Linked DNA regions of Homo sapiens. The protein of the gene in region 1 interacts with the protein of each later gene in a pairwise test. Each region holds a gene or a part of one and is shown on either strand. Other genes may lie near its edges. The genes, in order: FGR and NR1I2.

Evidence for each region.
Region 2: the proteins of FGR (region 1) and NR1I2 interact in a two-hybrid assay, tested with the Homo sapiens proteins (one large-scale study listed by BioGRID and IntAct).

The regions. Positions count from the first base shown.
Region 1 is NC_000001.11:27,628,619-27,632,429, forward strand, and holds part of FGR (tyrosine-protein kinase Fgr), read right to left. Parts: intron 1-3,811. UniProt on the Homo sapiens protein: Non-receptor tyrosine-protein kinase that transmits signals from cell surface receptors devoid of kinase activity and contributes to the regulation of immune responses, including neutrophil, monocyte, macrophage and mast cell functions, cytoskeleton remodeling in response to extracellular stimuli, phagocytosis, cell adhesion and migration.
Region 2 is NC_000003.12:119,805,821-119,809,631, forward strand, and holds part of NR1I2 (nuclear receptor subfamily 1 group I member 2), read left to right. Parts: intron 1-1,408; coding exon of another isoform or gene 1,409-1,430; coding exon 1,431-1,627; intron 1,628-3,811. UniProt on the Homo sapiens protein: Nuclear receptor that binds and is activated by variety of endogenous and xenobiotic compounds.

The DNA.
Region 1 (3,811 bases):
TAGACTTATACAATCTCTCATGTTCACACACAGATACAATATTGCCACTTCCAATAATACCCACGTATATATTGCCACAACATATCTATATCAGATGGAGGGGATCCCTGAATTCTGCATGCCCAGTATGGCTGGAAGGGAGAGACTATCAGCATCTGAGAAGGAAGCTCTGTGGGCTCAGGAAGAGCCCTGGCAGGACTGACCGTGTCGTCAGCAGGCAGAGGTAGGCAGCTCTTGGGTCTTATCACTTCCAAACTTGATGCAGACCAAAGCCCTGGCCAGGCCTGGCTCTCTGGGGACCAGTATGCTGAGGCGTCAGGGGATGTAGGGCACAGGGTATGACATCTGCATGGCCCAAGGCAGGGAGGGGCCACACTGCATGTAGCCATGTTCATGCTGTTTTGTCAGAGGAAAGAAAGAGATGGGGAAAGACAGAAAAAGGAGAGGCAGAAAGAAAGAGAGAGAGAGGCAGAGTTTGAGAGATACAGGGAGATAAAGAGAAAGAGCCAGAGAGACAGAAAGACAGAGAGATAGAAGGAAGAGACAGAGACAGAGAAACACAGCGTGGTATGCTGGTAAACTGACTCTCAAAAAAAGAAAAGAAAAGAAAAGAAAAAGCCCTGATTTGTCACATTTTCTGATTTCCATGGTGTAAATATTCCCACAATGGCTGATTTAAAGCTACCAAAGTGACTTCCTGAAAGCTGGGGTGGAAGAGACACACAGAATGAACTCCCCTGAGCCAGTAAGTAGCTGGCTCCAGCACACACTGCCAGAAAGAAACAGAGACAAAGAGACAGAGGCAGAAATGAGAATTAAGGAGAAAGAGTAATCAAGAGACAGAAAGAGATAGAAACAGAGAGAGGCAGAGATGAAGAGAAAGAGAGAGAGAGAGCTAAAGAGACAAGGAGGGAAAAAGACGGAGGGAGAGCAGATTGGGTTCACTCTGCTCAGACATCTGCATGAAAATAGCCCTAGGACTCTTCATCCTCCTCTTGCTCTGATCTCTATGTGCCACCAATTCTTTGGAGAGTAATTTGACTTCCTAGAAATCCAGGTGGCAGTAAAAATGAGCTAATTTATTAAACAGTTACACAGTGACTAGCATCTTGCCAAGTAACTCCCAGTCATGGTCTTATTTGGTGAACCTATGAGGTGGGTTTATGACTACCCTTATTTTACAGATGAAGAAACTGAGGCACAGAGATGTTAAGTAACTTGCCCAAGATTACATTGTGAGTAAAGGATGCTAAAATGCAATGCTGATCAACTTGTTGCCAAAAACCACTGTAACCACTAGTCCATTCTGTAATCCTAGTAGAAGCAATAATGCAAGCTTGTCCATCCCATGGTCCATGGGCCATATGCAGCCCAGGACAGCTTTGAATGTGGCCCAACACATATTAGTAAACTTTCTGAAAACATTATGAGATTTTTTTTGTGATTTTTTTTGAGACGGGGTCTCACTCTGTTGCCCAGGCTGGAGTAAAGTGGCACAATCTTGGCTCACTGCAACCTCCGCCTCCTGGGTTCAAGTGATTCTTCTGCCTCAGCCTCCTGAGTAGCTGGGACTACAGGCGCGCTGCCAACACGCCTGGCTAATTTTTTGTATTTTGAGTAGAGACGGGGTTTCACCGTGTTAGCCCGGATGGTCTCGATCTCCTGACCTCGTGATCTGCCCGCCTCGGCCTCCCAAAGTGCTGGGATTACAGGCATGAGCCACTGCACCCGGCCTTTTTTGCAATTTTTTAAAGCTCATCAGCTATCATTAGTGTTAGTGTATTTTATGTGTGGCTCAAGACAATTTTTCTTCTTCCAATGCGGCCCAGGGAAGCCAAAAGATTGGACACCCCTGCAATAACGTGTGTCTCTTAAGGAGCACCTAGTGTTCTCAGCCCTGTGCCTCATGCTCTAAATCCTTGATACAGCAGGCAGGGCGCAGGTGGGGGGAGGGAGGGGCGCAGGAGAGAGAGAGAGAGAGCCATATCTGCCCAGATTTTCTCAGGCAGTCGCTGAATCTGAAGAAGCCAGGTCTCTCTTTTCTCAGCACTGAACTTCGCTGCCTGCTAATACCAGAAAGGGGGCAGCTCAGAGAGTAGCCACAGCATCATTCTGGGCACTTGGTTCTGTTTATAAATATGTCTCTTGAACATCTGGTTTACAGGAGTCGCCTCCGAGATCCCCATCAGGGTCAAAATCAGGTTACAAGTATCAAACTGAGGTCCAACCCTGGACCGCAGTGCTCCTCACTTCAACATCTGCCCTGTGGCCCTCCCCAGCTCCATTCTTCAGTAGCTCTATGACCTTGGATCTTTGACATAAGCCTCTGAGCCTTAGTTGTTGCATCTGCACCTTCTGAGTAGTTGTTGTGAGGGCTTCATGACATGTGGCTCTTGCCCGATGTGCAGTGGCCAAGTGTGACCAATAACCAAAACCAGAATGGCCCCCAGGGACCATTTACCACTCCACCTTCTCTTTTGCATAGGGGGAAGTTACTTTCCCAGGATCACACAGCCAGACAAGGGATTCAAAGTCAGGACTATTAATTCAAGTCCAGAGTTCTGTTCCCTCCCCCACTGCTGTGTTCTCCAAAGCCTGAGCAGGAGATCATGCTGTTCCTAACTAGTGAATGTCATACTTCCGGTCGAACACACCACCCCTGTCATATGGCAGCTGGTCACCCAGCAGGGAGGGACCCTGCCTCCCACTCACCCCTACTGCTGGACATAGGAACCCCAGGTCCACCCATCCTTTTTCGAGGCCCACACTTCCCAAAGCTATGCCAGTTCTTTGATGTAGACACAGGATGTCCTGCCCCCGCAACCCTCACCAAGTATCTGTGGGATCTAGAGGCAGATTTAGGCTCAAATTCTAGCCTGCCTGACAACTAGCTTAAGGCATTGGGCAAGTCAGTTCATCTCCCTGAGCGGCAGCATCTTTGCCTATAAAATAAGAATACAAATGTCCACCTCCTGGGGTTGCTTCTCAGCATCAAATGGGGTCACATCACTGAAAGCATCAGACATACAGTAAGTGCCCAGTGAACTTTCACTTCCCTCCTTTCCCTTGAGGAAGGTCCTCCGTGGCAGTGACGGTGTGGGACCAGAGGGTACAGAACTGGGCAGGGCTGAGAAGAAAGAGAAGTTCCCAGGGTGAGGTGAGAGGGCTGAGCTGGCCCAGCCGCCTGGGGGATTTCATCAAAAGGGAACCGGGACTTTGGGCAGGGGCAGGAAACCACCATCCTGCAAGAGTTCCGGCTTCTCCTCCAGGCTCTGGGCTGGCCGGGGGCAGGCCAGGGCTGGAGGGTCAGGGAGCAAGGCTGAGGTCTGCAGGTGACTCCCATCCCACTGTGCCGCATCTCTCACTAGGCCCTATCCCTCAGACCGGGCGGGCTTCCATCCCTCACCCTCAGTCCTCTCACCGAGACCCTCCACCTGGCTGAATGCCAGTGCCTTTGCTGAGGCCCCCACTGCTCATTAACTCCCTTTCTTTCTTTCTTTGTTCTTCTTCTTCTTCTTCTTCTTTTTTTTTTTTTTGAAACAGTGTCTCATTCTGTCGCCAAGGCTGGAATGCGATGGTTCGATCTCGGCTCACTGCAACCTCTGCCTCCCGGGTTCAAGCAATTCTCCTGCCTCAGCCTCCTGAGTAGCTGGGATTACAGGCGTCTGCCACCATGCCCAGCTAAATTTTTGTATTTTTAGTAGAGATGGGGTTTAGTCATGTTGGCCAGGCTGTTCTTGAACTTCTGACCTCAGGTGATCCACCCACCTCGGCCTCCTAAAGTGCTGGGATTACAGGCGTGAGCCACCGT
Region 2 (3,811 bases), on another chromosome or scaffold:
TGAGGTTTTTGTGAACACCTAAAGTATACATTTTGTCTGCAAGCCTACATAAAGTCAGGATTATGATTTGAAAAATCAGGGATTTTCCCCTGTGCCTGTTCAGTTCAGGTTTCCAGTCAATGTATTTTATTCACAGTGTAATGGAGGGCCAGGGTCAGAGACAGATTAATTCCTTATTTACTCTTACAGGTGAAACTGTCAGATGTCACCTGTCATGATGTTGGAAACAGAAATTTATGTGTTAGAATTTTACTAAAGTTTCGATTTTGGCATTAGAAAAAGCATCGTCATCTGTGGTGGTGTCTGCCCTTGTCAGTCAGTGCCTAGAGAGAATTTTGGGGATGGTAGTAACAGGACAATCCCCCATTTCTACTGAACATCCTCAGTGTCTGTTCCAAGTAGAATTCAAGTTATGCTCTCAAGGTGGAAGTTGCCTGGGGAGGACATCCTTGAGTACAGCTCAATTTTTTTTCTTTCTTTTAGAGATGAGGTCTCACTTTATCACCCAGGCTAGAGTGCTCTGGCATGATTCTAGCTCACTGCAGCCTCAAACCCTCAGGCTCAAGAGATCCTCCCCGCTCAGCTTCCCAAGTAGCTGGGACTATAGGCTCACACCATCGATCTTGGCTGTTTTTTTTTATTTTTTGTAAAGATGAGATCTCACTTTGTTGCCCAGGCTGGTCTCAGATTCCTGGGCTCAAGCGATCCTCTTGCCTCAGCCTCCCAAAGCCCCGGGATTACAGGCATCAGCCACCATGCTTAGCTACAGCTCTATTAATAGGCACAAGTTCTTCAATATTCACTGAGACCCCAGCTCTGCTGGGACCACAGGCCATTTTTCTTCCCATGTTGTGATCTTGCCCACCATGCCTCCACTTTTTCCCCATCTGCCTGGCTACTTAGTTGAAAACTCTTTCTGCTCAGCCTTTCTAGCTCCCTGTGGGAGCTTGGGCCACACCCCACCTGAAAGACTATCCTCCCTCAATGTCCCCAGTCCCAGAAATCATCTTGAACAAGTAATCTGTCCATGAGCTGCTCCCCATTCAGACCTCTGGCCAGGTTGTGGCCTCCTAACCTCAGTCCACTCAGCTGTGGCCTCCATGATCCGACCCAGACAGCCTGCTCTCTTTTCTTCTCATTTCTTCCTCCCTCTTACCCTTATCTTTCCCATGCTCCTGTTCACATGTTCTACTCCAGGGCTCTATTTTTGTGTACAAAATGTCATGATTACAGCTCTCTTTATAACAATTCCAACCCCCATTCCCCGCTTTTTTTCCCCATGAGAGGTCAGCTCCCGAGTTCACAGGCCCAAATGTGAGTGATGCATAGAAGGGACAGAGTGTTTCCTCTGAGGCCTCTACACATCCCTGTCCAGTCTTTTCATTCTCTGTGGTTTTCTCATTTCTAGTCCAAGAGGCCCAGAAGCAAACCTGGAGGTGAGACCCAAAGAAAGCTGGAACCATGCTGACTTTGTACACTGTGAGGACACAGAGTCTGTTCCTGGAAAGCCCAGTGTCAACGCAGATGAGGAAGTCGGAGGTCCCCAAATCTGCCGTGTATGTGGGGACAAGGCCACTGGCTATCACTTCAATGTCATGACATGTGAAGGATGCAAGGGCTTTTTCAGGTAGAGTTACCCATCAGCCTTCACCCACGTGCCACCACTGACCCACTGGGTAACGTCTCAGGGCCTCAGCTTGACCTGTCCCCCAGGTTCAGAGTGTGGGCTGGTGGCCCACCCAAAGGCCTTGTAATTAGTCTCAAGGGAGCCATTTATATCCCAGAGGAATCCTTCATCTTCAGTCTTCCTGTTCTACCCAGGAAAGGTCTCCTTCCATTAAGATATCCCTTGGTTTCTCCATGTGCTCTTGAATAAAATGGAAAATGACTCAGTGAAAGATAAGGAATTTGAAAATCCCAAATCCAAGTGTTCACATCCGCCTTCTGGGGTGGTTGTTACATAAAGAATGGCATAAAATAAATGCTTAGACCATGGGAAGAGAAACAGACCGAAGGGAGGGGAAGGGCGGGGAGGGGAGAAAGCCATGTGTGAGGAAGCACTCCAGGTGCACCCTCCGGAGGGCACAGGGTATGCAAGGAGCAGCTCCCATCTCGGGAGCCACATGTGGGACCCTCATGCATTCCCAAGACAGCCAGCCTGACAGCCCTTTGCAGAGTTCTTCGTGGTGGCTGGGCATTCAAATGGAAAAGGGCAGGTTCCAGGGAGAAATGAACATTCGTGTTGCATGAGTTATAACAGGGGTGAGACACATCAGCAGTGTCAGACTGGGTTCAGCTACAAGTCACAGGACACTTGTCGCCAATTGGTTTGGCAATAAGGAAAATGTGTTACCTCTCCTAACAGGAAGTCTGAAGGCCTCCAGGTTAGTGAGTTCAGCAGCTCATTTCTTTCCATTTTTCTCTTCAGCCATCCCACCTGAGAGCTCTGATTGCAGTCTGGCTCCCCTTGTGGGGGCACAGTGCTGGGGCCCCAGGCAGGAATCATTATGTTCAGCAGAAGCGCACAAAGGCCCATCTTTGAGAGTAAGGAAATCTTTCCCAGGAGTCCCCTCACATTGGCTAGAGCCGGGCCCAGCCTATGCCTGAACTAGTCACTAGCAAAGAGCAGCAGGTATGTCCCTGAGCTGGGCACACGCCACTTGACTGTGTGGAAGAGGGTGGATGTCTGCACCAGCTCCAGATGCTGCTGGCACAGAAGAGGCTGCCCAAGCAGTGTTCGTGCATCCTGCCTCAGCATGCAGGAATCTTCTGCTCTCCCTTCCTCATTTGGGTACTATTCCTGGGACTCTCAGAAAAAGGCAACATGTTGTAGTGGGCAAAAGCTAAATCCAGTATCAGGCAGACCTGGATTCAAATTTCAGCTTGTCATGTACCTGGAGGACAGCTGGGGATCCATCGTCTCCAAGCCTCAGTCTCCCTCATCTGTGCTAGGCAGATGAGATTATGAGTTTCACAGGGTTTTAGAACTAAATTTACAAAACTGCAAAATACCTAGCCTAGCATCTGATACATAGCATACCTTTAAATAATGTGAGCCCCGGTTTCATCTTTTACCCATTCTCAGTGGACTTTGATGTAGCATCAGAGTTTTCTTACCCAGGCCAGTTGGGAAGGCAAAAGGCAGGGATGGCATCTGTGAAGAACATGCCCCTGGGCTGGTCACTGGTCCGAGGCCCGAGGCCTCCAAGCTCAAACCTGCCAGGTCACTGCGGGCTTGGCTCAGCTTCCCAGGCCTGCCCTCGGGGACCTCTGCAGCCCTACCTGGCTGTTCCATGCTCCTGGGCCAGCCTTCCCTCAGTTTCCACTCTGGACCAGAATCAGAGGCCAGAGCCAAGGGAGAGATTGTTTCTTTCCATCCAGCTGTGGAGATGGGGAAAGTAAAGGTAGGACTGCACTGACCGTGTCTTTTGTGGGACAGGCAGGACTTCCGGGCTGGGAGGAGGAGATCTTGTACCAGAGTCTCCAAAAGGCATCTGCCCCATTGCCTCTCTGCGCACCGCAGAGAGGGGTGTGCGGGCCCGTGGGTCCCGCCTGCACGCTCTGCTGTTCCAGGCGCTCGACCTCTTTGCCCCCTAGGTCAACGAGGGGAATCCACTCTGCCATGGGGAAGTCGCTGCCCCGTAGGGTATAAGAACTTCCCCATAGTTCACCCCTTCCTCCCTGGCCGCCCAGTCTGGAAGGGGAGCTGGAGAAGGCGGCGGGGGGTGGGGGGAAGGCGGGGGGGAAGGCGGGGGGGTGGGGCGGGCTTCTCTGGTTTCTTACCCTCCTGGGGTCAGGTTTCCTCAGCTCC